Linked DNA regions of Homo sapiens: all the other regions are reported to be linked to region 7. The links are microRNA targets in miRTarBase. Many come from high-throughput screens and were not tested one by one. Region 7 holds a microRNA gene; each other region holds the end of a gene's coding sequence. Distances are from middle to middle.
Evidence for each region. Region 7 holds the annotated microRNA hsa-miR-3666 (CAGUGCAAGUGUAGAUGCCGA, at 2,502-2,522, shown strand). A microRNA usually pairs through its seed, bases 2 to 8, with sites in the 3' UTR of a target mRNA and lowers its output. Matches are read on the target gene's strand: a 7mer-m8 pairs with bases 2 to 8, a 7mer-A1 pairs with bases 2 to 7 and ends in A, and an 8mer does both.

Region 1: the mRNA of ZNF529 is a reported target of hsa-miR-3666. Seed matches in the 3' UTR shown: 7mer-A1 at 1,793-1,799.
Region 2: miRTarBase lists TSPAN3 as a target of hsa-miR-3666. Seed matches in the 3' UTR shown: 7mer-A1 at 2,485-2,491.
Region 3: miRTarBase lists ENPP4 as a target of hsa-miR-3666. Seed matches in the 3' UTR shown: 7mer-m8 at 2,835-2,841.
Region 4: the mRNA of FBXO28 is a reported target of hsa-miR-3666. Seed matches in the 3' UTR shown: 7mer-m8 at 1,086-1,092, 7mer-m8 at 1,583-1,589, 7mer-m8 at 1,623-1,629 and 8mer at 3,620-3,627.
Region 5: the mRNA of ZNF12 is a reported target of hsa-miR-3666. Seed matches in the 3' UTR shown: 7mer-m8 at 2,731-2,737 and 7mer-m8 at 2,534-2,540.
Region 6: miRTarBase lists MAPRE3 as a target of hsa-miR-3666. Seed matches in the 3' UTR shown: 7mer-m8 at 2,627-2,633.

The regions. Positions count from the first base shown.
Region 1 is chr19:36,543,193-36,547,890 of GRCh38, reverse strand. ZNF529 (zinc finger protein 529) reads left to right here. Exons shown (of 5, transcript NM_020951.5): 5 at 1-4,278. The coding sequence ends at 1,025. Among named protein-coding and RNA genes, the nearest start is that of ZNF260, 17 kb to the right of the region's middle.
Region 2 is chr15:77,044,240-77,048,690 of GRCh38, reverse strand. TSPAN3 (tetraspanin 3) reads left to right here. Exons shown (of 7, transcript NM_005724.6): 7 at 1,764-4,451. The coding sequence ends at 1,856. Among named protein-coding and RNA genes, the nearest start is that of TSPAN3, 25 kb to the left of the region's middle. RefSeq lists an enhancer at 4,354-4,451.
Region 3 is chr6:46,142,677-46,147,374 of GRCh38, reverse strand. It overlaps ENPP4 (ectonucleotide pyrophosphatase/phosphodiesterase 4), which reads right to left. Exons shown (of 4, transcript NM_014936.5): 4 at 687-4,099. The coding sequence ends at 3,735. Among named protein-coding and RNA genes, the nearest start is that of ENPP4, 15 kb to the right of the region's middle.
Region 4 is chr1:224,157,366-224,161,850 of GRCh38, forward strand. It overlaps FBXO28 (F-box protein 28), which reads left to right. Exons shown (of 5, transcript NM_015176.4): 5 at 1-4,485. The coding sequence ends at 381. Among named protein-coding and RNA genes, the nearest start is that of DEGS1, 24 kb to the right of the region's middle. RefSeq lists an enhancer at 2,982-3,276 and a silencer at 2,982-3,276.
Region 5 is chr7:6,687,419-6,692,116 of GRCh38, forward strand. It overlaps ZNF12 (zinc finger protein 12), which reads right to left. Exons shown (of 5, transcript NM_016265.4): 5 at 1,015-4,698. The coding sequence ends at 3,430. Among named protein-coding and RNA genes, the nearest start is that of ZNF12, 17 kb to the right of the region's middle.
Region 6 is chr2:27,026,015-27,029,354 of GRCh38, reverse strand. MAPRE3 (microtubule associated protein RP/EB family member 3) reads right to left here. Exons shown (of 7, transcript NM_012326.4): 6 at 3,323-3,340; 7 at 2,136-3,075. The coding sequence ends at 3,007. Among named protein-coding and RNA genes, the nearest start is that of TMEM214, 5.3 kb to the left of the region's middle.
Region 7 is chr7:114,650,872-114,655,569 of GRCh38, forward strand. It overlaps MIR3666 (microRNA 3666), which reads left to right and starts at 2,474; the gene lies at 2,474-2,584. It overlaps FOXP2 (forkhead box P2), which reads left to right. Exons shown (of 17, transcript NM_014491.4): 9 at 1,332-1,419; 10 at 3,055-3,138. RefSeq lists an enhancer at 4,183-4,698.

The sequences.
Region 1 (4,698 bases), not on the chromosome of region 7:
GTGTGAAACCTTGTAAATATATGGAATATGGGAATACATGTAGTTTTTATAAAGACTTTAATGTATACCAGAAAATTCATAATGAGAAGTTCTATAAATGTAAGGAATACAGAAGGACCTTTGAAAGAGTTGGAAAAGTTACTCCACTTCAAAGAGTTCATGATGGTGAGAAACACTTTGAATGCTCATTCTGTGGGAAATCCTTTAGAGTGCATGCACAACTTACTCGACATCAGAAAATCCATACTGATGAGAAAACTTACAAATGTATGGAATGTGGCAAGGACTTCAGATTTCATTCACAGCTTACCGAACATCAGAGAATTCATACTGGTGAGAAACCCTACAAATGTATGCACTGTGAGAAGGTTTTTAGAATTAGTTCACAGCTCATTGAACATCAGAGAATTCACACTGGTGAGAAACCTTATGCATGTAAGGAATGTGGGAAGGCTTTTGGAGTATGTAGAGAACTTGCTCGTCATCAGAGAATTCATACTGGTAAGAAACCCTATGAATGCAAAGCATGTGGAAAGGTCTTTAGAAATAGTTCATCCCTGACTAGACATCAGAGGATTCATACTGGTGAAAAACCCTATAAATGTAAAGAATGTGAGAAAGCATTTGGAGTAGGTAGTGAACTTACTCGACATGAAAGAATTCACAGTGGTCAAAAACCTTATGAATGTAAGGAGTGTGGAAAGTTCTTTAGACTTACGTCAGCCCTTATTCAACATCAAAGAATTCATAGTGGTGAGAAACCTTATGAATGTAAGGTATGTGGGAAGGCCTTTAGACATAGTTCAGCCCTTACAGAACATCAGAGAATTCATACTGGAGAAAAACCCTATGAATGCAAGGCATGTGGGAAGGCCTTTAGACATAGTTCATCCTTTACCAAACATCAGCGCATTCATACTGATGATAAACCCTATGAATGTAAGGAGTGTGGGAATTCCTTTAGTGTTGTTGGGCATCTTACTTGCCAACCGAAAATTTACACTGGTGAGAAATCATTTGACTGAAATAAATGTATAAAGTGGTTTTTTATTTCTGATTTTCACAGGAAAATACTGTGGATGGATTTAATAGGTAATCAAGGCAATTCAGTATCTCCCTCTCTTAAAGTCTGTTTTTAGACTTCATGGTCATTCTGTATGTAGACGTAGAATTGCTTAGTCATAGCTGATATATACTTATAGCTTTGTTAGATGTTGCCAAATATTTCTCCTTTTTATGTTAAAAAGTTTTTTTCATGAGTTTCTCATCCTGGCATGTTTTGTTTACAATAGCTTTTGATGTTTGTATTATTGCTCTTTTGACTATTCAGTTTTTTAATTGTAATATTACTTCAATATCTTTTCTGCATTGTAATTCTTTGCTTGTGATATCTATACTTACTTATTTTCCTCCACAGAGTTAGCACTCCTAGTCAGATACAATGTATTTTTACAGTCTTACAGCTCATCATTTTGTGTAATGTTGTTTTGTTTTGTTTTAAATGATAGAAGTGTGATCTCCTTTCCATTTTCATCCAATTGTTGACTTCTCTTTAAATTTCTACTTTATTTTGATACAACATATTCCCCCCAAAAAAACACATACATAGGAACTGGTTATATTCCACCATAACACACACACACACACACACACACTATATACATATAGTGTATATACACATATAGTGTATATAGTGTATGTGTGATGTATACTATACATATCACATATACTATATGTGTGTATATAGTGTGTGATGTATATGTGTGTGATGTATACTATATATGCCCACACATGCACTACATAACACACTATATATATATATATATATACACACACACACACACAATATATGTATATATAGTATATACACTATATACTGGGCACTATATATATATAGTGTGTATGTGTGTTATATTGGAATATAACCAGTTCCTTTAAGCAGTCTTTTTACCTGCAGGCTATACCAACCAGGATCCAAATGAAGAGAACTCTTTTAAATATTTGATAAAACTACTCACCCAGTAAGTCTCTTAAAATTTATCATTCTCTTAAAGTATCACTCTAAAATTTGTCAAACACCTTTAAAAGGGGAGAAAAAATGACCACTGAACTTACATTAAGAGAATTTACAACTATATATTAACATGGCTTCAATTGTTTTTTTAATCTATTATCATTATTTTTCTTTTTATTCCCTCTCAGAGTTGACTTACTAGGTTTGGGCATTTCAACAATCAGCAGACCTTCTTTGGTTTAACTAATCTCATTTAACTCCAAAATCATCTCTCTCTTAGGACTGCTGACTTGGTTATGCAGTCAATGAGATCACGAGCCACTGGTTATTGGATTTTTTTTCTTTTTTTTTAGACAGAGTTTTGCTCTTGTTGCCTAGGCTGGAGTGCAGTGGCGCAGTCTTGGCTCACCTCAACCTCTGCCTCCCAGGTTCAGGCTATTCTCCTGCTCAGCCTCCTGATTAGCTGGGATTACAGGCATGCGCCACCATGACCGGCTAATTTTATATTTTTAGTAGAGACGGGATATCTCCGTGTTGGTCAGTCTGGTCTCAAACTCCCGACCTCAGGTGATCCACCCGCCTCAGCCTCCCAAAGTGCTGGGATTACAGGCATGAGCCACCGCACCCAGCCTGGTTATTGGATTTATTTATTTATTTTGAGATAGAGCCTTGCTCTGTCACCAGGCCGGAGTGCAGTGGTGTCATCTCAGATCACTGCAACCTCCACCTCCCAGGTTCAAGCGATTCCCCTGCCTCAGCCTGCCAAGTAGCTGGGATTACAGGCATGCGCCACCATGCCCAGCTAATTGTATTTTAGTAGATATGGAGTTTCACCACGTTGGCCAAGACAGTCTCGATTTCCTGACCTTGTGATCCCCCTGCCTCGGCCTCCCAAAGTGCTGGGATTACAGGCATGAGCCACCACGCCTGTCCGGTTATTTGATTTTTATAAGAAAATTTTACTATTATTTTCAGATAAATTTATGTCACTGTCATTCATTACATTTTAATTTTTGAAACTGATGTCTTTCCCAGAATTTATGTACTCTATAACGGTGTGAATGATTACCAGTATTAAGCCATTTTCTCATCTGATATATTGAGCTATGTTTTATGTAAGTATTGCTTATTCAAGTAGTTTTAAAAGATATGTAATTGGTTGTTGTTTCATGTCCTACACAGTAAGAACAAGAGTATGTTAACCTTTTTGTCAGGATATTTGCTATTTCATATCTTTGAAATAGAGTAGTAGCTCTATTTCTAACTAAATTCTATTTATGTAACAACACAGCTAATTTACTCTTGGATCTCATTCTCCCTTTTTATCCTGAGTTACCATCAGTGCTAATGTTCCTCTTTTGGGTATAGTTCTCCAGGAGAACTTGTCCTATATTTCTTTGTGTGTGTTTTTTTCCTTCCAGCTTAAACAAATTAAAACTAAATATCTAAACCTTGTATACAGACATTAAAATTAGTGAGAGAAACAAAATATCCTTGTGTCTTGGCTTTTACTTTTTGAAGTCATTAACAAATAATAAATTAATGAATAAAATGTGTCCTTATTATGTTTTCCTTGTTTGTAGTTACAGCTATATTTTTATCATATTAACATTTTTCACTTAACTTCGTAATGAACTTATGGCATTTCACACTTACTCGAAACCATAATATAATTATTATTGGTGGTATTACTGTTTGGTTTTTACTATTTTTACTCAAAAACATAAAACTTCACCATTCTTTCCATTTTCATTTGCCCCTTTATTCTTTCTGACTTTTCTCTAAGCCTGCATAGGAGCTTTATTCTCATATTCAATAGGATAGGATATTGCAGTCTCATCCTGTTTTCTGCTGTCCTGCACCATTAAATTTTATATGTCCTTGAAGGAATTCAATTTAATGGCAACTAATATATGTATGTTAGGGACAGGTAAAGAGTCTGTGACTGAGATTTCTGGAGTTATATAACCCCTGCGCCACCCCCCACCCCAACTCCAACTTGCCAGAATTCACCCCTTAACCTGCAATGTGATTGTATTTGGACATAGGGCAATGAGGACATAAGAATGTGATTCTAATTTGATACAAATGGTGATCTTATGAGAAGAGGAAGGAGAGACGTCTCTTCCTATGCTCACACACAAAGGAAAGTCCACATGAGGACACAAGGAGAAGCCAAGAGAGCCCTTACCAGGAATTAAACCTGCTAATCCCTATTTTAATTAGAACAGTGAGAAAATAAATATCTGTATTTAAGCCTCACAGTCTATGGCATTTTCTTACAACACCCTAAGCAAACTAAGACAGTTGTTGGTACTGAGAAGTGGGGTGCTGCTATAACAAAAAACTAAAAATGTGCAAGTCCAAGCTTTGGAACTGGGTGGTGGGCAAATAGGCTAGAAGAATGCTGAGGGTAGATGCTAGAAATATGGATGTAAAAATGATTCTGGGGAGGACAAAAAAAAAAAATAGAACCACTGGAGAGAAAGCTTCCATTTTAAAGAATCCTGTCATGAACGGTATTCATGTTAAAGAAACAATCATGAACAAAATGTTGGTAGAAATATGGACATTTAAGGCCATAATGTTTTAGTCTCAGAAATGAGAAACAGGTTATTGTAGCAAGGAACTTGGCTGAATCATGTTCTAGTGTTTTGTGGAAGGTAGCGCTTCCAACCAATGAA
Region 2 (4,451 bases), not on the chromosome of region 7:
TTTGTGTAATGTTTCCAAGTATGTTGTTGGAATGTTTCAAAAATCAATGGAATTTCAGTATAGCAGGCCTTTGGAAATGAGCCTGTAATAGTTAATGGTGAGGATAAGAAATTATTATGTAGAGCTTAATATTCTTAAGCAGACTGATTCCCAAGCATGAGTAGAATTTTATCAAGTTTATTTGTTTTAAAATCAATACAAGTTGATTTCATTGAAATAAACAAATTGGGAAAGAAATACTTATTTCAGACCTCATTTTGAGAATGCTGGCTTCTCTAATAGAAGTTAACCAATTGAAAGGAGTGTGGGGAGGTGGGGGTGGGAAGAGAGATTTTTTTTCCCTTAGCAAACCAGTCATTTCTGAGCTTAGCATTTTTATTGCTCAATTTAACATTGCCTGAGAACATAATTGCATTTGAGTTTATAGCTGTTCTAACAATGTTTTGATGTACAGAGAACAGAAATGTATTTCTCTAGGAATTAGGTACTTCATCGGTCTAGAATTGACTTAAATTGTTTAGTAAACTTTAAATAATATTCACCTCTTAAGTGTGTTTAAGGTGCTTTGCAAATGGTGAAATGGTGCAAATGGTGCAAGTGGTGAAATAGTGAAACTGATGGATTTGAGCAGGAAATATATATCCCGAATGGGCAGAATATAGGTTAATGTGAGGGTAGAAATTGGAGTGGGTGACTTTATACCATGGAGAATTCAGATTGAGGACATCCTTATGTGTATGTGTGTCTTAGTAGTGGTTAATCTTCCACTTCAAACTTTGAGAGTCTGTTTATGGATTGGGTACATTTTGCGGAAATTAGATTGACCCCCAAATGTACAGAGGACCCTGTCTTTTAAAATCAAATAACTGAGGCTTTTCCTCATCAATGAGAAGTTAGAACAGCAAATTATCTCACAAAAAAATTATATTTTGGGAGAAGGTAGGTCAAAAATTCTAGAATCATTTTCTCTTTAATCCAGCTTAATCCTTTTGCTTATCCAAAATAACATGGCATGACTTTATTACTATTCCAATATGCTACCACAGAAGGTTTAGGACTTATTGAAATAAAATGATGACGGAAGAGTGACCTTTCAAAAGTAATATGTATGTAATACCACAGAACCGTGGATTTCAAAAATAGTGAATGTGAAGGAAACAAAAAACCTTCCAACTACATTTTTTTTGGCATCAGAATTTGTTTTCTACCATAGGGCTATTCACATACTGAATTTCGTTTTCCAAAAACCAAAAGACCTGAAAAGACCACTATTAAACACACACATTCTTGCTCATTCTACTCCCCAGGCCTTTGCTGTCCAGAATGGTAGCCACTAGCCACATGTGTCTACATTTAAATTAATTTAAATAAAATTAAAAGTGCAACTCAGTTGCAGTAACTATATTTCAGGTGCTCAGTAGTCACATGAGGCCACATGACAGTGCATATGTGGTATGTCTCCATCGCTGCAGAAAGTTCTTTCGGACAGCACTCGCTAGACTAGTAGTGGGGATGCCAAATAAGAGAGACTTGATTCCCTGCTGGCTTTACGAAGAGTTCCTGGGAGGGAAGCTGAAGCTTAGGACTTAGTTCCTTAAAAAATAATGTACTCATAAGAAATTCCTTCTATCACTGTTGTTACTGCCTTTTTGATGATTTGAAGTCATTGAACTTTGAAACAGCTCTTTTACCAACAAAGAAATACACACCTGCCATGAGAGGGTTTTCAGCCTTTTTTCCCCATTGTTGTTTTCTTTCAACAGCTGCTGGGCATGCTGTGTGCTTGCATCGTGTTGTGCAGAAGGAGTAGAGATCCTGCTTACGAGCTCCTCATCACTGGCGGAACCTATGCATAGTTGACAACTCAAGCCTGAGCTTTTTGGTCTTGTTCTGATTTGGAAGGTGAATTGAGCAGGTCTGCTGCTGTTGGCCTCTGGAGTTCATTTAGTTAAAGCACATGTACACTGGTGTTGGACAGAGCAGCTTGGCTTTTCATGTGCCCACCTACTTACCTACTACCTGCGACTTTCTTTTTCCTTGTTCTAGCTGACTCTTCATGCCCCTAAGATTTTAAGTACGATGGTGAACGTTCTAATTTCAGAACCAATTGCGAGTCATGTAGTGTGGTAGAATTAAAGGAGGACACGAGCCTGCTTCTGTTACCTCCAAGTGGTAACAGGACTGATGCCGAAATGTCACCAGGTCCTTTCAGTCTTCACAGTGGAGAACTCTTGGCCAAAGGTTTTTGCGGGGAGGAGGAGGAAACCAGCTTTCTGGTTAAGGTTAACACCAGATGGTGCCCCTCATTGGTGTCCTTTTAAAAAATATTTACTGTAGTCCAATAAGATAGCAGCTGTACAAAATGACTAAAATAGATTGTAGGATCATATGGCGTATATCTTGGTTCATCTTCAAAATCAGAGACTGAGCTTTGAAACTAGTGGTTTTTAATCAAAGTTGGCTTTATAGGAGGAGTATAATGTATGCACTACTGTTTTAAAAGAATTAGTGTGAGTGTGTTTTTGTATGAATGAGCCCATTCATGGTAAGTCTTAAGCTTGTTGGAAATAATGTACCCATGTAGACTAGCAAAATAGTATGTAGATGTGATCTCAGTTGTAAATAGAAAAATCTAATTCAATAAACTCTGTATCAGCCCCCAACATATTATTTTTCATTATTTGGGGGATATTTCAGTTCCAGAGCAGCAGTATCATGTTTTCTTTGTTGGTGCTGTCTATAGTTCATCATGGTTTACGTGTGTTTTCGTTATAGCTGTTGCCAGATTCTAAAGGGCTTGATATTCAAAAAACCACAGATGCTTTCAGTCCAGTATATCCTAGAAATATAGAGCTCTACTTTGTGCAATGCACTGGGGATACAGTGGCGATACTGTCCTTGTCTTCAAGGAGTTCGGAGTCCTAGTATAGGAGACATACATAGGAGAAGATAATTTTCACACTGCAGTGGTTGTAGTAATAGAATGGGAGTCCAAAGGGGAGTTCCGGAGAGGTCAGGGGTGACTTCCTGGAGGAGATGCCCAAGCTTGGAGGCTGGATAGGCTTTGTTGAAAGATGGTACACAAGAGTGTGAAACAAAATTGTGTGTGCAGGGAGCTTAAAATACAAGGCTGGGGAAAGAAGTTGGAGAAGCAGGAAAGCCCAGGCCCTCTAGTGTCTTACGGAACATCCTGTGGAGGTGAGAGCTGACTTGTAGGTGGAAGCAGCTCTTTGGAGGTTTGATTTGGAAGGTGAACTGAGAAGAAGGTGGTGATGCAAGCCGGCCGTGCTGAAGCCAGGATGAATTGGTGTGACTGGGCTTCAGTTAGGCTGGCATAGCAGTTGAGAGAGCTTAGCAGTGGGCAGCAGGGCACTGTTGGGGGCGGTGGTGAGCGGTGGATTCTGGCTGTTTGGAGGCAGGACAGTGGTGGAATTCGATCATTGATTGGACGTGGGACAGAGAAGGGAGAAGAGAAGACTCATCTAGGATGAGTCCCAGGTTTCTGGCTCAGTCAACTGGGGAAACAAAGTCACAGAGCTAGGGAGTAGTTAGAGAACACATCTGGGGGTGTGACTCATGGTCAGTTTTGGGCTCGTCAGTTTTGAGATGCCCAAATATCATGCAGATCTGTCCCACCTGAAAATGGAGAAGACACGGGAAAGGAGAGGAGTAAAAACTAACTCCTTTTCACAAAGTGGAAGTTACCAGAATGTGATTTCAGAGGCCCCGGGGGATTTATCATGTGACTACTGACCCATCCCACCTCTTGCCCCTGCCTGTTGCACAGTGGGCAAGAATGTTTGTGACCTTTCACTACCACCACCTCCCCCGAGCATGGTCCCCCCAGTTTTCAATATGAACCATCCTGTGGGTACCCTGTCACAGGCTGGCCCTGAGGTGAGCAATATTTGGACTGTGATGTTGGTTGTTCTCCACTCTTTCTACAGGACAGAACAGGGCCTCTAGAGTGGGAAATGGCTTTGGGAAATATGCCAAGCAGTAGCCTTGTTCTTCAACTTGCCCAAGAGGATAATTCTCCACACCCTTCCTGTACTCAGTCCTCAGTTTGCCTGGTGAGAGAGCAGCCTCCTCCCGTGTGCTCTGCCAGCTGGACCCAGACTGGCCATATTACCAGTGAGACCAAAAAGATGGAGGTGGGGAGGTAGCTCTGAGGTCTGGGAAACCATTCCAGCTCCTGCCAGTTTTAACTTGTGTTTAATTCCTGGCACAGTTGTCCTGGAAATGCCTTTTTCTCTTGCCTGGGAACCACTAGAAGGGGATGTTGTCTGTGTTGGCCAGGGCCATGCAAATTCAACATCTTGTTTCTGCCCTTCCCCCGTGTAGCTGAGGCTAGGTGTTGGCATTACCCAGTGCTTGTTCTTCAGAGAGCAAAAGCACTGCTCGTCATGTCTGAAATTTAGTGAGTGAGCTCACCCACTAGGCTGGTGTTT
Region 3 (4,698 bases), not on the chromosome of region 7:
AGGATGTAATAATAACCAAACATAGGCACTAAGGAGGCTGGGAGTTGGGGGAAGAGGCAAAATTAGCATCTGAACCTCAGGAAGCACAAGGTCTGGAAAATGATTCTAGATACAAGGCTCTCAGCAGCAAGAGTTAACCCATGAGTACACATAGGTAATTTGTTGGTATAAATAAAGTTTTACCACTTTTGAAATAATTCTCTTTCAGAGTAAAAAATGTTCCATTTATTCTTTTGTTTTCCTACAATTCTTAGCAGAGTTCTTTTAATACAAAAATAGGAAATGAATTAATCACTGCTCTAATAGGAGAATTCTTGAATCTATATTCAATTGGACAAGTCATTAAATGCCTATGGCTATGTACAAAGTTTAAACATTATAATGCTTCCCCTACCATCCCCACTATTTTATAATCGGTTTTTTTCAAACCTCTTCTCTTCTACCATAAGCCAATAAATCATAGCTCTGGAGGTTCTATAAAACTTATCTTGGCTTTCTTTCCAATGATGTTCTTATGCTGGATTGTATACTTACACACTGTTTTAAACTTTTTGTTAAAGAGTTAAAAAATCCTAATAAACACCTATGTGGGCTTCTATAATATTACTAAGTCATGTCAACATCTAGCACAGTAAGTATATTTTGCAAGAAGGTAACAAATGTAAAAATCACCAGTGACACTGAACTTTATATTTAATAATTACAGTAAGAATTTTTTGGTAGATTTTATTCACACACATTTTAAAAATCATGAACAAAGTCATTAATTCTGAACTCAAGTAACAGTCAAAAATATTTTAATTTAAATTAAGGCACTACATACACATTTCTTTAAAGCACACTGATGTTATTTTATTTACACACTATTTTAAGAATTAACAATAAATACACATTTTCCATCTCCTCCTTGTCCTTCATTTATAACTTTATATGTTAACAAGGAAGTAAAACCCTCCAAATAAAAGGAATTAAATGCAATAATCCATAAAGCTTATCAGATATGGGCACAAGAAGGAGACACCCAAAAACAATGTAAAAACATTTTAATCCTTTAATGTTACAAGAATTTATCTATAAATTCTTATGCCATTCCTAGTGGAATAATAATATAAAACCTATACACAAACATTGAAATATGTTTTATTCTATTGCTATTTACCAGAAGAATTGCATATAAATAACAGCAGCAGAACTGTCCCTATGTTATACATGAATGTACTTATTCTGAATTCACTGACTGAATTAAAAACACTTAACTCAAACTTTTCCTATTACCTTGGGGTATTGTTTTCACAAACAAGTAAATGTTTCCTAGAGCCAAATACTTTCTACACCCAGAAAATAGAGCAGCATGTTAGTTATTTAACAAAATACACACCAAAACCTTAATGTGAAAGGCTAGTTTTACTATAAGATTTTTCTCAGTGTACTAAAGGAGTCAATGGCTTTAACAGTGATAATTTTTTAAAAGATACAAATGAATTAACACATAGTTCAATATAATATATGTTTTATTAAATAAATACTATTCTTCTTGTCCCATCAACATATACTTTTTAAATTTTTGCTTAATTTACAATTCGAGTTAATATTTTGAGAACGTAAGGAAAGACAAATAGGTAAATGTCTTGTTGAAAGGGTTAAGATACTGACAGGACATACCTTCCTGTTCCATCCTATATAAAATCCACTCATGAGTTGGATGCCAAGTATAGATTTCTGAAACTCATAACCACCAATCACGATAATGCAATCATTAAAACTCACACCATTGCAAGGACCAAGTATAAAATATTCTGCTACTATTTTAGATACTTCAAAAACATCCACTACTTTAAATGAAAAGCTTTAAATGTGTCAATGCTATTTGCTTTTTAATGGAAATTAAAGTAGAATTTTTCTATTATTCTGTTTCGATCAACTATTAACCTTTAGGATAATTGTTTTATGTGAAAAAAATTAGAAATTTTTTTAAAGCAAAATTAGTACTATTGGTTTTTATTTATTTTACTGTTCTTAATACAGTTAACTTATGACCAACAGCATGGATTATTTATACAGGGTTTGAAAATGCCTCTCAACAACCACAAATACAATAGGCAGCAAATACCAGGCTCAAGAAATTAGCAGTGACTCAATAGGACGCACTGTATGTTTGATGACTGGCACCACTGTTGTTCTTTACCATCACAGATAATCAATATTTAACTGGGCTGCATATTTATTATACTTTTATATTTGTAAAACAGTTACCAAGTTTATTTTATATTGTCAAAACTTTAAAGATCATACTATTAACTGCTTGTCTCACGTACTGATGAATGGTTCTTGAGCCCAATTTTTCCCCTACTAAATATAATCTAGTCTGTCACAACCTAGTTTCTTCATATTAATTTTGATTACTAGAAGGTACCAGCTAGCAAAGGCAGGATGACAGTTCTTCACAATAAACCCTTGGCTCTGAACAAACATGTTAAACAGAGGGATTATTTCTGTGATGCAAATACTGGAGAAAAAAGTGGAGGTAGCACTAAGGCTATTCTGCCACTTAACATATGAATGGTGTGAAAGACCAAAAGATACTAAATTTTGTTTAAAATTTCTTAACTATTCTATAGCCTAAAAAGTAAGGCATAAAGTCCCAAAGATAAATACAAAAATCTCCATTCCTCATTCTGTCCCAGTCAAATTGAGATTTGTATTTGGGTCATAAATTTTTCTGTAGCATTTGGATACCTCAGGTTACAACAAACATGAGAGAGTTAAATGATAAAAGTTAATGAAATTAAGTTATGATTTTAACTTGTGAGTTAGGAGAAAGTAAACAAATATGAAGTGCAAAAATAACCTTTCCTGAGATCTGTGTGCTTCAGGAATGTGGAAGCCTGGCCACAGTCCATCTCTGACCTCCTTATATAGTAAATCACATAATGTCCACACAACCACACACAAACACACTTGCACAGGCACACGCAAACAACTAAGTAACTTACATAAAGGCATTAAGCATAGATAGAGAGAAGAGCACTTGTCTCTCTTTTCTTCTGAATTTTTTAACAATAATCTTTAAGACTAACAGCTTAAGACATAATGGTGACAACTCAGGCTTTTATCAAATGGTCTTTGCTTTTTTTTTCAAATAGGTTTCCTTAAAATATTTCTTCATTTGCTATATCTTTTCTGTCTGCTCCAATTTTATTTACCATCACAGAGCATTTCCTACCTCAAGAGGGTACTTGAGATACAAACTAATTAAAGGTAAATATAAAAATATAGGAAGCTTTTCCTCCCTAATATACAAAATTCACAAATTGCATAAAGATTTCTGTTGTTTTCTTTACAAATATATAAATTTATTAGAAAAACATGCCTACTAAATTTTGGTATATTTTCATTTAAAGATGTATCACATCTTCATCGCAAAATACAAGCAGAGGAAGTATTTTTCTCAAAAGCCATTTTTAGTATTTCTAGTTAGGATTGATGTTACCTAATGATTTCCTACCACAAGATGTTACCTAATGATTTACTAACAATTTTACTATGGTCAGCGTTATCTTATTAGCAAATGCACCGAAACAAAACACAAGGAAAACAAAGTAATAATTTTAACATGCTTAGTCTAAGTTCTTTGTCTTTCAAAGTATTCTTTTTCATAGTTACAACACTATTCTTTGGATGTATTCTTAGTTTTGTGATTAATCAAAGACACTTTGTATAAGCCCTAGCACATGTCACCCAATTAAAGGATCATCATCATCTTCTTGTAGCTGAAGTCGAGAAAATGGACGAGGTACAGAAAGTCTATTCTGCATGATTATTATGAGGCATGTTAGCATGGTTAACACCAAGAGTGAACCGATAACAATCGCGATGGCTTCTGGGAGATTAATGCACCACTGGTCAACTAACAAGCACTTAGTATGACCAAAGGTCCCATTATTGGGATGTGGTTTTAATCCCAGGATGTGGCACATCATTGGATAAATATCCACAATGTTAATTGTGCTATGCTTGTAGCCTTTGTGAAATGCAGGTCCGTGGGCAGCTAGAAATGGATGCATACTAGGCAAAGAATTATCATAACCATGGTCACCTACTGAAAAAGAACAAAACAACATCAGTCAATAAGATCAGACTTTTTAGGACAAAATAACTTGCTTCTAGTATATAAACATTCAATTCTTTCAGAAAGGGACTAGAAATAAAAATTTCTATTTCTTCAACTCAGCTATGTTCCATATTTCCCTCTCTCTCTCTCTCTCTCACATACACACACAAACACACACATATGCCCCTTTTCCCAACTGGTCATACCCTCAGACTTTACCACCACTTGTCAACCTGATGTACTTATCTTTCAGCCCGAGTACCAATTACTTCACTTGTCAATCTCAGCACTGTTTGCAAAAGCTCACTGCAAGCAGTACCAGTTATAAAGACAGTGGTCAGGCTGAGGGTTCTGTGTAACTGGGAAGAACAGAAGTGAGTAAGGCCAACAAATGGAGAAAAAGAAAATCTGCAGCCTAACCTATCTCAATTGTTACAGGAGGGATCTTGCGTTGAATGTGTTGTCTAATCTGGTGACTCTATCCCAGTAAAAGTTAGACTTAAAGAAAAGCATATGATAGTCCCTAATACAACTCCAATAATAAATTCCCAATTTTTAGCTTTATTTTAACAAATGTTGCCATTTAA
Region 4 (4,485 bases), not on the chromosome of region 7:
GCAGCCCTAACAACAATGCAGCTCTTCTCCAAGCAAAATCCTTCAAGACAAGAGGTTACCAAACTCCAGCAGCAGGTTAAAACAAATGGTGCTGGCGTGACTGTTCTCAGGCGTGAAATTTCTGAGCTTCGCACCAAAGTGCAAGAACAGCAAAAACAGCTTCAAGACCAGGACCAGAAACTGCTAGAGCAGACCCAGATCATAGGTGAACAAAATGCACGGTTGGCAGAGCTAGAACGCAAACTACGAGAAGTAATGGAAAGTGCTGTAGGAAATTCCTCAGGGTCCGGGCAGAATGAGGAGTCTCCTCGGAAACGAAAAAAGGCCACGGAAGCCATAGACTCTCTTAGGAAATCTAAACGTCTTCGGAATAGAAAGTAAATTGGAATGTGGTTCTAGTTCCAGAGGAAGACACAGCTTAGTAGCTTAAGCAGTTATGCATATCAGGATACTGTGAGCAACATGGTGTCCCTTAAGCTTCTAGGCTTTCAGAACACAACTTAAACTTGAACTCTTATGGTTGGGACATTCTTTTCCTGCTTCTCCTGATTGAACTGATGCACAGAATCTTTTTACTTTGCAATAGATTTGTACTAACCAGACCTGTTCTATCATGTTTTGAGGAGTTAACTTTTTTCTGTGCAGATAATGTTGAAAGTAAGTTAATTTGTTTCTGCATATATGCACATACATACGTAAGGATCTTAAACCCAGTCTTGACAGACTAGAAGTTAAGTTTAATACAGAAAATGTCCTGTTCACTTGAAAGAAAAGACCTACTTTTTAAATGGACACTATCTTGGTTCTTTTTTTTTTAAGTCATCTTTTTGTTATAAGTGACCTTTGTCTGGAATGTCTGAAAAGTAGTTAATGCTTTTTGGTATTGAAGTAATGGGTAACTAAAATGGACTTCCATAGTATTGACTGTAGAAGGAGCCTCTACAATATTGACTATATATTTTTATAAACTACTGGCAAGGAACTTACCCAGCTGTTATACATGTTTTCAGTTCTCTTTGGGGGCCATGTCCTACATTTGCATGGATGGATGCATGCATTGCCTAGTCAACTCACTTAAAAAGCTCTTGCACTGGTATTGATCTTGAACCTCTATACTTCTCCACTTTTTAGAGCGGCGTCTTAGTTTATTTAAACGCTTAACATCTTCCACCGCAACAGCTTGCCTCTAGAGGGGGAATTGTTCATCCATTTGTCCTCCAGTTTTATAGGAACAAGAGACTATTAAAGCCCATTGCTTTATCTGCTCTCTGTAGGGTTCAGGTACACTGGCTAAGGCAGAACCCCAAATTTCAAGGCTCTTTCTATCAATATTGGACCTCTGGGAGCTAATACTCCTCTTTGCTCACCACCATGTGATCATTGATCAGATGTGGTGAGTGAGTAGGGGACTCGACTTGCGGGATGCAGTTTTGCCATTGCAGCAAAGTTCATTGAGGAAAATTGTACCATGAAAAAGCATTTTGATTATTTCATTTCTGGAGGATGACCTTGAGGGAAGCTTTTTAATATTAGTTTCAAGCTTTCCTTACCCTACAACTTTAAACAAAAGCTTTAATTTTGTTTGCACTCCTATTTTGAGCTTGTAACTGGAAAAGCATGTCTTGCACTGTTCAACCTCCTGAGTGGTCGCTTTAACAACCTCCAAATTGTGTACAGTGGTTATTTTCCCCAGTTGTATAGTTTTGAGACATTCAATTATCACTGTCTTAGTTGTATTTTAATTTACTAAATTATGTAGCTATTTGACTGTTAAGTTCTTTTAAACAACTGTTTCCTTGGGCTTCAGTTATTTAAAGTAAATTTAGGTGTAATATAGAAAACTGTCCCTTTCCAGGTGGGAGCTTAACACCTGTATAAAACCTAAGGTTTTGGTAAGTACCTTAGTTGAATAAAAGCACAAGGTTATCACCTTTTTTATCCGTCCACCGTGACATGGTTATGCATCCTTTAGATTAACCTCACCAAATGAAGCTTTTTCTATCCATTTTTAATATTGTCCTTACATAATATTGTCCTTAGATTTTGATCAATTCTATGTCTGACTTTGAAATTCCATTTACAATGTAGTATGTTTTCAATGAAAAACCATAAAGTAACATCCAAGTGTTTCATGGTTTGTTGGGAAGGTAATTTTAAAATAAAACAATTTCCAAAAAACATTTGTCAGCCAAGGTCATCCATAAAAGTCCCCGTCTGGAACTCGTTTTCTCAGCACTTCTCATTTTTATAATCATAGTATTTAGCCATATTAGCATATCTTTAGAGGAGGCCTGGTGGAATACCCGGGGCCTCTACTAGTCTGCTTTTCCGGTCATAGGAAGACTTTTTTTTTTACGTATCAAAGCATGTGTTTACAGATTTACAGAGTGTGATCCGTATGCATCAAAGGGATACAGCCCCAGACTGTTTCTTTAATGGTCATTCATGAACTATTAAAAATTTCCTGAATTTCTTTTTAAACTACATCTAGATAGCCTAAACATCTATGTAGTCTTCCATTAGTTAACATGTGTATAGGGCTTTCATAATAAGTAGTCACACTGTTACAAGGTAAATTTTCTATTACAAAATCCAAATTTCTATTGCATACACTTATAATCATCTATTCATAAAGCTAATTCATTGTACTTGTTAATGCATGAATGTTCCATGCAGTAGGAGAATAAAGCACTACAGTTCGGTTGTTCAAATCTTAAATCTTAGGCTATTTAGCTAAAACATGTTAGGATATTGCCTTCACCACTTGTTAGGACAGTTATTTGATAGCCATTATGCTTACCTATGGATAGCATAATGGTATTTAAGGTTCAACAAACCGCAGATTATTATGATCAGCTAGAACTGACATATGTTACAAGAAAACTGTAAATTAACCTCCTGAGAGAACCATTCTGCCCTGCATTTTAAGTCAGGTATTTAAATACTGCGTGTTGTTAATATTGCGTTGTCTTAGTGCAACATTTCTTAAAGTATTCCCGTTATCTTCCTTGGCTGTTTTTCAGAGGAGACGTCTCCATGTTAATGGGTCCTTCCCACATAGAAATGTATTCTGGTACAGCGCTGCACACATGGATAGCAATGTGAAAAGGCATGCCTAAGAGACAGAAACGGCTGACCTTACCCCACCCCAGCCGGATCCTCTGCTTATCTCCCACATGCACTTGGCTTAACTGGTTTTCACAGATTCTGAGGTTATAGAACCTGTTGTTTTTCAAACTCCTGTACAGAGCCTGGAAATAATGGAGCAAACGCAAATGTATTGAGAGTCATTATACTTTAAAATAGTTTTAAAGACTATTGGGGTACCATCAGGTCAAAAGCCACTGATTTGGGAAGCAATTTTTTTGCAAAACACTTTTTTTGGAGTACTGAACTTTACAGGGGCTTGCCTTAATCTCTATTTAGTAGTTTCAAGATATATGCGCAATTATTCTACGTGTTAAAAATGTTAAAATATTCTATGTAGCCCCAAAGGTGGGTAAAACAGTATAAGTAATGCCTAAATTAATAAGCTAAAAGGTGTCACTACAGCTGGATTTTTGAGAGAAAATGGACATAAAACTAGGCTATGTGTAATAAAAATAATGGCACCTTAAGATTGCACTATTTTATGCATTATTTTATATGCCATTTCATAGCCTGCACTTTAATCTCCAAAGAAACGATGTATGATGTCCCACTTGTTCCTTATTCTTAATAAACTTTTTCCTGAGACAGGGCACTTAATTCTATTTTACTATACTGAATTAGTTTCTTGGAGGTAGATTCATTTCTTGAGTTCTCTGTTTCCTTAGCCATAATATTTTCTAGGATCCGGGAACTCCCTATATTGTCTATTTCCAACATTATATAATTTTAATTTAATGTAATGTAAATCTCATACTTGGTGATCAGCACATTCTTATATCCTGCTCTAGCAATGAGTACCCATTTGTTACACTTACCAAACTCTCTAAAAACATATACTGTGAGTAAGATTTGAAGCCAGGAATAAAAGGCAGTCTGAAAGAAAACGTCCTATACGATGCAGTTGTTTGGAAATGGCTGATTTCTGATATGAAACCCAACTTGATACACTGTTTGGTTCTTTGACTTGGGATCTATCTGAATTGCTTTCACTAGTACACAAAAGGTTAAGTTAAAACTACTTTAAACTTGTATAGCCTGCCATCTGAGGTGAATTATTTTCAAAAAATACTAAATCTATGAACTGAGACTAGCAATTAGTTGGCTGCTCCCTACCATGATTTTACTTTTAATAGCAATACAGTTATATTGGTGATAAATATGACAGGCTTAAGTACTGCTGTCCTTTTGCATCTTCCTAAGCATCTTGGTTAAATTTCTGAAGTTTAAAAATTAGATCCAGATTTCTTCTGTTGTGTCTGAAGAGAACCATGACATTTAGAAGTATATTGGTAATCTATTAGGTCCATTGGCAAAGTATATTGGTCCATATTCAAA
Region 5 (4,698 bases), 110 Mb from region 7:
ATACCACTTGACATGATCACCCTAAATACTGCCTCCTTAAGATGTCTCCAGTCGACTGGGTGTGGTCGCTCATGCCTGTGATCCCAGCACTTTGGGAGGCCGAGGCAGGCAGATCACAAGGTCAGGAGATCGAGGCCATCCGGGCCAACATGGTGAAACCCCATCTCTACTAAAAATACAAAAAATTAGCTGGGAGTGGTGGCTGGCACCTGTAGTCCCAGCTACTTGGGAGGCTGAGGCAGGAGAATCGCTTGAACCCGGAAGGCAGAGTTTGCAGTGAGCCGAGATCGTGCCACTGCACTCCAGTCTGGTGACAGAGCAAGGCTCTGTCCGTCTCAAAAACAAACAAAAAACAAAACGAACAAACAAAAAAATGAATGTCTCCAGTCGTAGCAATGACTGGCTTTTGAAGTGAGGAGAGGATGCTCTAATGGAACCTAAGTGCTCCCATAGGACCGAGCTGCTCTCCTATCTTATGAAGGCACCATGGTGGGCTATCATCTCCTGGGCATACTACAGAGGACCATAAATGTATAGGGAAAAAGATTACAATTCAACTACTCTTTAAGATTTGTTCTGTCTGCCATTACCTTTCCCGCAAAAGAGCCCCATTCACATCCTTAGTTCTCTGGACCCAAACACTGCTCTTATTTCCGTGGCACCTCCGGGCTTGCACTGTAACAAGCCAGCAGCCCATGCTAGTGCATCAATTTGGCAGGAATCATAGACTTTATATTCAATGAAGGGAAAATCAATTTATTTTTGATGTAGTTATCTCTGTGATAGGAAGAAAAAAGCAATATAATTTTAAGAATGTATTTCCTGGTGGGCTTCATTTTAAGATGGGCCAAAAAAATCTCTTAATTTATGAAAACATTGGCATCTTTTAAACTATAAACATGTTACTATGAACACTGACTACATTACTGAAGAGGCAGTTCAGGACCACTTATATACGTACCAGACCCTTTGATGTGCAGGCAATCCATAGGATAAGAAGAAAATGCCAAGCCATTTACAGTTTTCAAATATTTTACTGAAAATGCATATTGTACAATTAATGTATAATGACACACCAGTGTGAGAAACCTCCATAGGTATCATTTCCACAAATATGCTATGAATATAGAGTTCCTACACAAAACTATACAACTTACCAGATGTAATTCCTGTTACGTACCATACTCACAATCGTCTTGAAGAATATGGAGAAAAAGTGCTGAGTGACAAAAACAGGAGCCATGTGTGATTTTAATAAATGGAAAACACGGCATTTCAGCTCAGTGGTAAAGCAGTAAACCAATCAGATGCTTAGCTATCAAGTAATCATGTGAGAGGAAACAGAATTAGATCCTTACCTCATACTATATGTTGTCAGCTAACACTGTAGCAGTGGTATATGAATCACATAAATTACCTCCAACAAAATGTATTCCATGTATTAGAAAAAAGGAGGTATGCCTAACATTGTGTCACGTTCCAAAGGTGAATTTTGCAGGTCAACGATATGACAGTTCAAGGAAGCATACATTTTATTGTTTCAAGTTGATTTCTAATGCTCAAACTATTTACGTCAAAATTTACAGAAAATAAATCTCTATATCAACAGCTTAAAATAAATGACTTACCTAAAGTCCACTTCTGAACTGCATAACTCCTATAAAGGTTTCAGTCTGTACCAATTAGAATGTCTTCAGTTATTAGTAATAGAGCATCCTAAATCAACTGGCTTAAAAATAAGTTTAGTCTCTCACAAAAGAAACAGTCCAAAGGAGGAGTGGCTACAAGGCTGCTTGGTTTGGTGGCTCAAAGACATCATCCAGGTCTCAGGGTCTTTCAGTATTTCTGCTCAGGCCATGATTAAACTATAATCCATTGCTGAAAGATGGTTACCAGGCACCACATCCAGACAAGGTACTGTTCACCACAAGATTCCACTTCCCTTTGCTTGAATCCTTGGGCCTTTGAGAAAACCTTTTCCAGAAGTAGTCTGTCAGGTATATCCTTTGTTTTATGTCTAGAATTGGGCCCTGTGACCACTGTAAATCAACTGCTGGCAACGAGAAGGGGAGTGTCACTGGTTAAAACTAATCAGGATTTATCTCACTTCCTTTTGAGGATAAATGGATAACCAAACTCCGCCAGCAGAGTAAGGGAGTGACTAAGAAAGTCACTCGGCAATGTCTGCCACAGACCCTTGTTAGAATGTGTTCTTAATTCATTAACAGGAAGGAGTAGAGCACAAGGTTTAAAACCAGTACGACATCAAATGAAAACACAGTGAATTCCTATGTTAGAAAGTCACTCGGCAATGTCTGCCACAGACCCTTGTTAGAATGTGTTCTTAATTCATTAACAGGAAGGAGTAGAGCACAAGGTTTAAAACCAGTACGACATCAAATGAAAACACAGTGAATTCCTATGTTACACAGCATTGTGCTCTGCACTGTTATGTAAGTGTCCAAATAAAAAACAGTAGAAAAAAAAATAGATACAAATGGGAATATTTTAAGTATATCTTAAAACTGTATAGAGTGCAATGATTTTCTCACTCTTGGAAAACTGGCATTATTAATTTTAAATTACCAAGCAAAGTTTTCTATCTATTTTATACATGGATATTTATCTCTCTGGCTGACTCAGATACAGTTGAAAACATTATAAAAGCATTGGTCCTTTAGAGCTGATATTGTTCATTAAGAATGATCAATGCATTAAATCCTAGAGAAGAGTGCAAGAAAAAGTATACTTTATACCTATCAAATGATATTAATGTAGTGCTGTTTAGAATACTCTTACTATATGAATTACAAAATAAGGATACAACGTTTTTTCAAACATGATTCGAAGTGAACATACAATTCCTGTAATGTACTGTAATAAAAACAACCCTCTCCCCAAACATAAGTCCTATGTTCTTTGGGAACTGCTTACATGAGTTTAAGGTTACCGACTTAACTAGCTATCCTGATGACTTTACAGTTTCTATTTACACAAGAAGTATGTTTATTCACAGCAGGAATCTTCTATTTCTTTTTTTTTTTTCAAGTTTGCTATTGTATCAGAAACATATCTTTTAGTATTAACAGTTTCCAAAGGATTATGTCTTCCACATTCCTTATACTGATAGATTTCCCCTTGGCTATGATTTCCCTGATATGCAAAACAGTTCCAATCCATGGTGACATGTATATACATTCTTAATATTTATAAATTTTTACTTGTCTATAGTCTAGTATTGTTATACCATGTGGTCTTGTTATAATCATGGTTTCCATTCTGTGAGTCTTCAGATTATGAGTCCAACACACAAGGGGATGTCCACACTAACCTGTGTGAACTCTCTGATGTACAAGGTGTTTGACTTCAGGCAGGAGTTTCTGATTCACTATACTGAAAGGGTTCTCTGATATAAAATGAGGTCTGACTTCAGAGAAGCCTTCCCACATCTATTACATTCATATTGCCTCTCCTATGAATTCTCTGATGGCTGTTGAATGCTGATTTGTGGTAGAATTTTTTTCCACATTCAGTACACTCATAGGGTTTCTCTCCTGAATGAGTTCTATAATGTACAGTGAGGTATGACATCCGAGAGAAGGCTTTTCCACACTCATTACATTCAAAGGGTTTCTCTCCTGAATGAATTCGATGATGTATAGTGAGATAGGACATCTGAGAGAAGCACTTCCCACATTCATAACATTCGTAGGCTTTCTCTCCTGTGTGTGTTCTCTGATGTCGATTAAGGGCTGAATTCTGGCAGAAGGTTTTCCCACATTCACTACATTCATAGGGCTTCTCTCCTGAATGAATTCTATGATGTATAGTGAGGTATGACATCTGAGAGAAGAATTTTCCACATATATAGCATTCATAGGGCTTCTCTCCTTTGTGTATTCTCCGATGTCTACAAAGGGCTGAGTTCTGGTAGAAGGTTTTCCCACATTCACTACATTCATAGGGTTTTACTCCTGAATGAGTTCTATGATGGATAGTGAGGTATGACAACTGGGAGAATAACTTTCCACATTCATTACATTCGTAAGGTTTCTCTCCTGTGTGCACTCTCTGATGTCTCATGAGGGCTGAATTCAGGTAGAAGGTTTTTCCACATTCATTACATTCATAGGGTTTCTCTCCTGAATGAGTTCTATAATGTACAGTGAGATATGACAACCGAGAGAAGAATTTTCCACACTCATTACATTCATACGGTTTCTCTCCTGTGTGGGTCCTCAGGTGGGTCGTGAGAGTAGACTTGCGGCAGAAGCATTTCCCACATTCACTACACTTGTAGAGTTTCACACCTGTGTGAATTTTCTGATGGTCATTAAGTGCTGACTTCTGCGAGAAGGTTTTCCCACAGTCATGACAAACATAAGGTCTCTCTCCTGAATGTGTTCTCTGATGTTGTGTGAGGTGTGTCTTCTGGCAAAAGGATTTTCCACAATAACTACATTCATAGGGCTTCTCTCCTGAGTGAGTTCTCTGATGCTGAATGAGGTGTAACTTCTGGTAAAAGTTCTTCCCACATTCATTACATTCATAGGGCTTCTCCCCTGTGTGTGTTCTCTGATGCACAGTAAGGGTTCCCTTCTGGCAGAAGGATTTCCCACACTGATTACATTCGTAAGGTTTCTCTCCTGTGTGAGTCCTCTGATGTATAATAAATTTTGACTTTTTACAGAAGGATTT
Region 6 (3,340 bases), not on the chromosome of region 7:
GCATCCATTTCCTTGCCTTGCCCAGCTTCTAGAGGCCACCTGCATTCCTGAGTTCATGGCTCCCTTCTGTCTTCAAAGCCAACAACAGTGGGTGAGTCACTCTCACATTGTTTCACTTTGACCTCTTCTTTTATTTTTCTGAGACAGGATCTTGCTCTGTTGCCCAGGCTGAAGTGCAGTGACATGATTATGGCTCACTGCACCCTTGACCTCCAGGGCTCAAATGATCCTTCCATCTCAGCCTCCCAAGTAGCTGGGACTACAGGCATGTAGTACCATGCTCGGCTAATTTTTCTATTTTTTGTAAAGATGGGGTCTCGCTGTTGTCCAGGCTAGTCTCCAACTCCTGCGCTCAAGTGATCCTCCTGCCTTGGCCTCCCAAAATGGTGGGATTACAGACATGAGCCACCACACCCTGCCCACTCTGACCCTTTCTGCCTCCTGCTTCCACTCTTATAAACGTTTGCGATGACATTGGACCCACCTGGATAAACCAGGACACTCTCCCTATTTTAAGGTCAGCAGATTAACTTCCTGAATTCCATCTGCAACTTTTTTTTCTTTTTTTTTTTTTTTTGAGACAGGGTTTCAGTCTGTTGCCCAGGCTGGGGTACAGTGGAGCAATCATGGCTCACTGCAGCCTTAACAACAACTGGGCTCAAGTGATCCTTCTGCTTCAGCCTCCTGAGTAGCTGGGACTACAGGCACGTGCCACAACGCCCTTCAAATTTTATTTTTTGTAGAGATGGTGTTTCCCTATGTTGCTCAGGGAAGTCTTGAACTCCTGGGCTCAAGTGATCCTCCCGCTTTGGCCTCCAAAAGTGCTGGGATTACAGGCGTGAGCCACCGCACCTGGCCCACAGGCAGCTTAATTCCCTTTTGCCATGTAACCCACATATTCACAGCTTCTGGGGATTGTGATGTGGACATTGGGGGAGGCACTGTTCTGCCTCCCACACCCACTTTACCTTCAGGGTGAGGTCTCGGCCTGGCCTATCCTTTCATGGTATCTACCTGTAATCATGGGGAAAAGCCTTTAAAAATTAGGCAAGGGAATTAAAATCATCACGATAAGTAAAAGCAGGCAAGGAACTTGCTGGAGGAGAACAGAGATAGAATAAGGCAGAAGTGTCTATGTATGGGGGGGGGGAGTCAAAAGGGGTGGTGGAGGTGATTGAGGAATAAACAGATATGAATTGCTTATTTAAGGCTTGAACCTGGTGTCATGAGAGAAATGGTGGTGGTCTCAAAAGGGGCCATGGGGTGGGGCCACAGAAGAGACACGGCCCCATCTGCATGTTGACCATACTCAGGGTGGTGAGGAAACCAGCGCTGTCCTGCAGCTGGGGGAACCTCAGTGGTCTTTGGGGATGAGCCCTGAACCTCAAGTCAAGAAGTGTGAGTTCTAGTCCAGGTTTCAGCCACGGTGATTGAGTCATGCACGTGGGCCTCTGACCCCTCATCAGTAAACCGGGGGCTGGTCTAGATGACCCCAAGGCTCTCACATTCATTTCTGCACTCTTGGTCTCTGCTGGGCTTCTGGGACATCGGTTAGTATGGCCTTTTGTTAGGCACATGCCAGGACTGGGGCTGTGCAGGTGATGTGGAAGGGTTCCTGATTCCCTGTTCCCACTGGAGCCTGCTCTACAGAAGGAACCCCTTGGATGTTGCTGTCCCGGGCTTCAGCACTCAGAACTCCTTGCTCTTTGTGGCCATCCCAGCTCTCTCTGTCACGTGAGCCCTTGTCCCCAGCTGAATCACTATGATGAGTTGTATGAGCTTTGACAACAGGTGGGGGATGACATGCAGTCCCCCTGACCCAAAGGAGACTGAAACGAAGCACCTCTTGGCCAGGCCACCACGGTGCCCCACAGCCGCTTCACCGGCTGTCCCTTGTCATGGCCACGGGCCCAGACCTAGTTCCTCCTCAGTGACGGGGGGTTGGGGCCCCTACCTGCCCTCAGAGCCCTACCACCAGTGTTGGGCATTGGGGCTAGGCTGGAGCTGGGCTCTGAGCCCAGAGCTGGTGGTGGTTTCCAGGCCTGTGGGAGGGTGACAGTGAGGCTGTGCTGCCGCTATCACCTCCGGAGAGAGCGGTGCATGGGAGGTGGAAAGCACTGGACCTGGACTGTGGCTCAGTTGAGGGACACATGGCATGTACTTTTACCACACAAGTTTATTTAAATAAAAGTGAACACATATGCAGGCTGGTGCCCGAGGGGCAGGGGGTGGGGAGGGCAGGTGGGAAGCAGACAGACAATGGGGTCCAGGCAGAGTTTGTGTGGTGAACCAGGCTGCTGGAGGGAGTGGCTGGGGGCCTCAGGGCAGCGCTGGGATTCAGTGCTGGGGCAGGGGGCCTTGGGTGGGTGAGCCTGGTGCCAGGAGGTCATTTCCATCCCTCACATGCCCCCCTCCCTTTCCCTGACCCCCTGGGCCTACAGCACTACCTCCTCAGCCCCCTCTCCCTCTCCTGACATCAGCCTTCCCCTTAGCTACTGAGAAGCCAAAAGACAAAATAAATTAGAATGGGTGAGTCCTACCCCAGCCCCCAGCCATGGGGAAGGGAAGCCAAGCCAGGCACACTGCGCCGGAGCCCGTGCTGTCAGCTCTGGAAAAGAACAGGTAAAGTGCAAGGAGAATCCAGTAAGTAAAAATATACCAATGACTTTGTCAAATACACAGCTGCTGGCTGTCAGGAGCAGGTGGCTGGCTGGGGCGGGTGGCAGCAGCACCCTGGGAAGTGTTGGGCGACACAGCAGAGAGACAACGGAAATAAATAGGGTGGGTGTGGACAGGGGTCCCACCAACTGGGCCAGCACCACCCAGGACGGGCTTCTGCCTGCTTTCCGGCCCCATGCCCCCAAGCCCCCCTCGCCTGGCTCCCCAGTGCTGCAGCACTGACACAAAGCACCCGGCCGACCGTGTTAGGAAAGGACTATAATGTGGGAGTGGAGCAGGGAGGGAGGCACGGGGAAGCTGTGCAGTCAGCCAGGGCTGCGGCCGCCCTCAGTACTCGTCCTGGTCTTCTTGTTGATGCTCTTCAATCTCATCGTCCTCAGGGGGTGCGAATCCTTCCTGGAGGGTGGGAGAGAGAGGAAAGTGGTGGGCCAGGCAGGCCAGGCAGGGCTTCTCAGGTTCTGTAAGTAGCTGAAGAGCAAGGGGTCAGGAGTCCAGGAGCCCTGCTAATGGGTGACCCTGGGCTAGTGACTTCACCTCTCTCTCATCAGTAAATGTTCTCCACGGTCCCTTCTGGCCCTATCGCGCTTCTGGTCTTAGGGCCAGGCCAGACTGGGGAGGGCCCAATGGGCCTGGGAGTGCTCACCTCTGTGGCATAGAGGAT
Region 7 (4,698 bases):
GAAGTATTAAAACAAACTGGTTTAATTTATCAAGGTATAGGCAAAACAAAGGTTTCTGATTGTTGAACCTAGGTATATAAACAAATAAACCTTTTGTTTATAATAAAATTAGTTTTTATCAGCAACACGACTTTAATTACTCTTCATATGTTTTACATGTATGTGTCTTATATTTTTTCTGCCTCACTGTGATCTTCAAGAAATAAAAGTAAATAATTTGAATGGATACAAAAATATATTTGTTGAATTCAGTATACCCAGGGCTATTATAAACTTTTTAGACTATTATATCATTCTAAATGATACTTGAGCCCACTTGGGTAAATATATAAATTCTTATTTAATTTTGTGAATTTCTTTTCAATATGCCATTTCACTTATATGCAATGATGAGAACATCTCTGAAATTGTTGCCTTACTTTGCCCATTGGTGAAATAGATACACTAAAGGATATTGAATTACTTGAAGATTACTTTCTTTAATTTTGGGAAGCATCAAAGACATTATGTATTACAAATTACAGAGTATATATTATTAAATGTTTTCATGTTCATTGGAGATGCTGCTTTACTAAATTACTTTTGGTGTATTAACATACCACTCATTAAAGAGATCTCTTTAAACATCGTATAGAAATAATAATGGTAGACTAATGCATATTCAAGGTTAGAGTGAGATCATTTGGAATGATTTATTTTTCACCATTTTAAAAATAAGATTAGGACAAATGTCTCCTAGTTAGAACACTGGACATGAAATGTCAATCTTGTTATTCTAATGATCAAAATCTTCAATGAAGTTCTTTATTACTAACAGCAAATCATCATTCTTCATAAATATTGATTTTCCACGGGAGATAATTTGCCATCTTTACCTAATTCATACCACATCCCAATGAAATAAAACATTGCTCACTAAAATACATCATAGAAACAACAAACTGTTCTAACAATGAAATAGAAAATTGCCTTTGTTCTCTTCAGAATTGCTTTTGGTTCATAGATTTGTAAGCTGTTCTTTTTAAAAAAATGGCATAAATAATATGACTTCTACTATAACTCTGTAAATGGTCTGGGGAAATATTTTTTGTAATAACAGGTAAGCTTAGAGACAGTGACATTTTCTGCCATTTGAAGAGTCTCTTTACATTACATAAATAATTTTCACACAACACGTAAGCAGCTTTAACTTTTATCTGTATGGTTTCAAGGCTTTCTGTTTTCCCAGTGCACAGAAACATCTGACTTCAGTGTAGTGCTTTTTAAGTGTAGCCTATGCCACTAAGATCGACATCACTTTACATTCTGTTTTGTGTCTTCTGTTTGTTTAGGCACCTTAACAATGAACACGCATTGGATGACCGAAGCACTGCTCAGTGTCGAGTGCAAATGCAGGTGGTGCAACAGTTAGAAATACAGGTTTGTTAAATGCTCACTTAATGGACTCTTCTTAGATTTCTGGTGTGTTACATTGAGTACTGAGCAGATTCTGGGTCTTTCAGCCTGCATTTTACTGTCTTAGCCATTCAATACTAATGGAGATACATGATATTTTAGATTGTTTTAAACAGTGGCAATTATTGATAACCCAGGAAGGATTGCTGTAGTTTAATGTACTTATCACTTATATTTTTATAACTTTTAGACCACATCATATGAATTTGAATATCCCAAAGTAGTCAGATCTAAGTTTTTCCCAATGCAGGTTAGACCAAACTCCCAATTAGATATGATTTTATTACAGAGAGAGTTTTTACATGAGCTAACCTTGATTTTTTTCCATGAGATTTTATATTGTGGCAAATGACCAGTCTTTACAATATCATGCCTGTAATATAACTAACACCCTGAAAGATAACCTTTTCTTTTCTTTTTCTAGTGTAATTTTAATTAAAGAACTTGCAAAAAAATCTTTATACTTTTCTTTAGCTAGATTAAAGGCAGATAATTTATATCACAGATGATAATACACACATGTTGTATCAAATGCGACTGTTTTAAGTTAAAAAAAATTCTATTAATGTTGAAACAGAATTTGGCCAGAAGTAAATAGAATCCATAGAACTAATCAGAAAGCAATTATGTCACCCAAAGTCTGACTCTTGTTATGTTTTACTAAGCCTTTAAGGCTTTCTCTAACATTTCATCTTAAAGATGATCTTTTCTCAATGAAACTAATACTTTGTTTCATTTAAAGATACGATTTTTCTTCATATTTTATTACATCTTGTTTCAAATTCGTGTCATTGCTTTTTTCAGAGAGCTTACTAAAAATATTTTGTTTTGACTTGTAAAATAATCAAGAACACAAAAAGCACCATCACTGTTAAAGTTTAAAAAGCTTTTTATAAACCTGTTTACCATTTATAAAAGGTAGACTAAAACATAAGAGTTCAGCTGATGATACAGTCTTCGGTGTGACCAATTACGCCTATTTTTTTTTTTTCCTTCTGCTGTGTCTGACTGATGGAAAAGTAAGGTCCGTCAGTTGTAATGAGACCCAGTGCAAGTGTAGATGCCGACTCCGTGGCAGAGTTCAGCGTTTCACACTGCCTGGTCTCTGTCACTCTATTGAATTAGATTGATGATGGCAGATTGCAGGGGGCACTAACTGGACCTCAGTGGGAATGCATGAAGTGTGTAGACAATCCTGGCAGGCACTTTGCTTTGAGAACCCTTCACCCCTTCACAGCTGTTGGCACTAGTCCATTGCTAACAGTGTCCACAGGACTTTAAAGAGACACCATGGGCCTTCTAATTTATGGTTTCAGTAACTTGTTACTGTCGAGGCAACTGTGACCTCAATTCTCTTATTGACAAAAAGATGAAGTGTTATTTGTTTTCTCTGACCTTTTAACATAAGAAAAGCTATAAAAGTTTTTCCCCCTCCATAGCTAAAGTTGCATTTCCTCCCAGATAAGTTCCTCCTGACGCAGACTTTTACATGCAGGAATCATTATTCTGAGGCAAGCTCAATGATAAGATGTATCACTGCAATAAAATAGCTGTATCAGTCATTTCTAAAACGCTTCTGATCTCACTCTTTCTTAACAGCTTTCTAAAGAACGCGAACGTCTTCAAGCAATGATGACCCACTTGCACATGCGACCCTCAGAGCCCAAACCATCTCCCAAACCTGTAAGTGCATATTGCTTTATAAACAGTAAATAGCTCTACCAATGTAACAGACTAAGAAAATGAACAATTTAGTGACAGTTAGAAAACAATGAGTGTGATGAAAAATACGGCAATAAAATGAAAGTAAAATGTAATCGCTTGTCAAATTGTATGTTTCTTTTAAAGTAATGCTATCTTTTACAAAATCTATCCAATCTACACCATGGGTGACACTAAACAAAGTACACCTATCAGTGCACAAATCACTGCCTTGGGGCTGAAGCCAGAGAGAATTTCTTTCTGTGATAGGTTTACAGATATTAAAAGGAAACCCTCTTTGAGCAACCTGAAAAGTAGTAACGTACAAATCACAAATAGAAATGTATGTGGTGTGCTGAAGAAGGCAGATCAATCATAAGATACATATAAATAGATTTTTATCAAATATTTTGTCATAAAGGTCATGGTATTTTTATAGCCAATTTTGTCCTATTTCTTTGGTTATTTCAGTTAAGATGTATTTCACATATTGATATGTTTTATTGTACATTATACATAATGTTAATTTAGAGAGCTTATCACAAAAAGAAGTGGGTGATTATAGAAAATTAAGACTAGTTTCCCTCAAAAATATATGAGATTTAAGCTCAACCTAATAATGTAGTCAGATACACAGACTGTTGAAAAGAATATACTTTATCTCATTCAGCTGATGTTTGCACAGAAACTTAGAGTAATCAACTGGGTAACTCTAGTTTAATGAAAGTTTGTGGGATACTTTTTAATAAGGCCCCTGTATAGCCTGATGATTAATGATTGCCAGTCTTGCCTCTCCCTCTATTTCTTTAGGTAAAAAACGAACATTTGGCTTTGTAGTTGGGGAGGAGACAGAAGACGACTATATTGTCTAATTTTCTCGTAATGTCTCGATATTTCTTATCAATTAATATCATTCAAAATTTACTTTTTTGGTAGAGATTATATTTAAACTCTGCTAAGCTATTTCTGCTTTTCCTTTGTACTGTATTTAAAGGTAGAGTACTGTAAAAACATTTTTATAGGAAGAAAAAAGACATGTATCTTTTTGAATCTGACATACTACTTTTTAAACTCTAAAATGTCTGAGTTTTTAATTAAAAAATAAACTTTTGAGGATATTTTTGATCATGTATTTATGACTATCTTTTCAATAAGATTTTTTCCCTCATTGCTTCTATAGTATAATGTAGATAATCACAAGACAGAATAATTGTCTCATAAATCCATCAGGAATCTGCAGCTTGTTCTTTTCCAATTAATTATTCAATCAGTAAATTTTTTAAAACTCCAGCAGCATGGTTACATCTACACTAATAAAGAATTTTCAGCCTATAATCCAAAACAGAACCTGAATGAATAATGTAATTGAAGTATTACATTACATAAACCACACATGAAAGAATTGCTAATTGCGTTTGATGGTGGGCAATTAATACAGAATCTTAGATGAGCGATTTAAAATGAAACCACAGTTTAAAGTTCCCTTTGGAACTAGCGATATCTGAAGTGAGGAACTGCACTATTGGCCTCAGATCGGTTTGA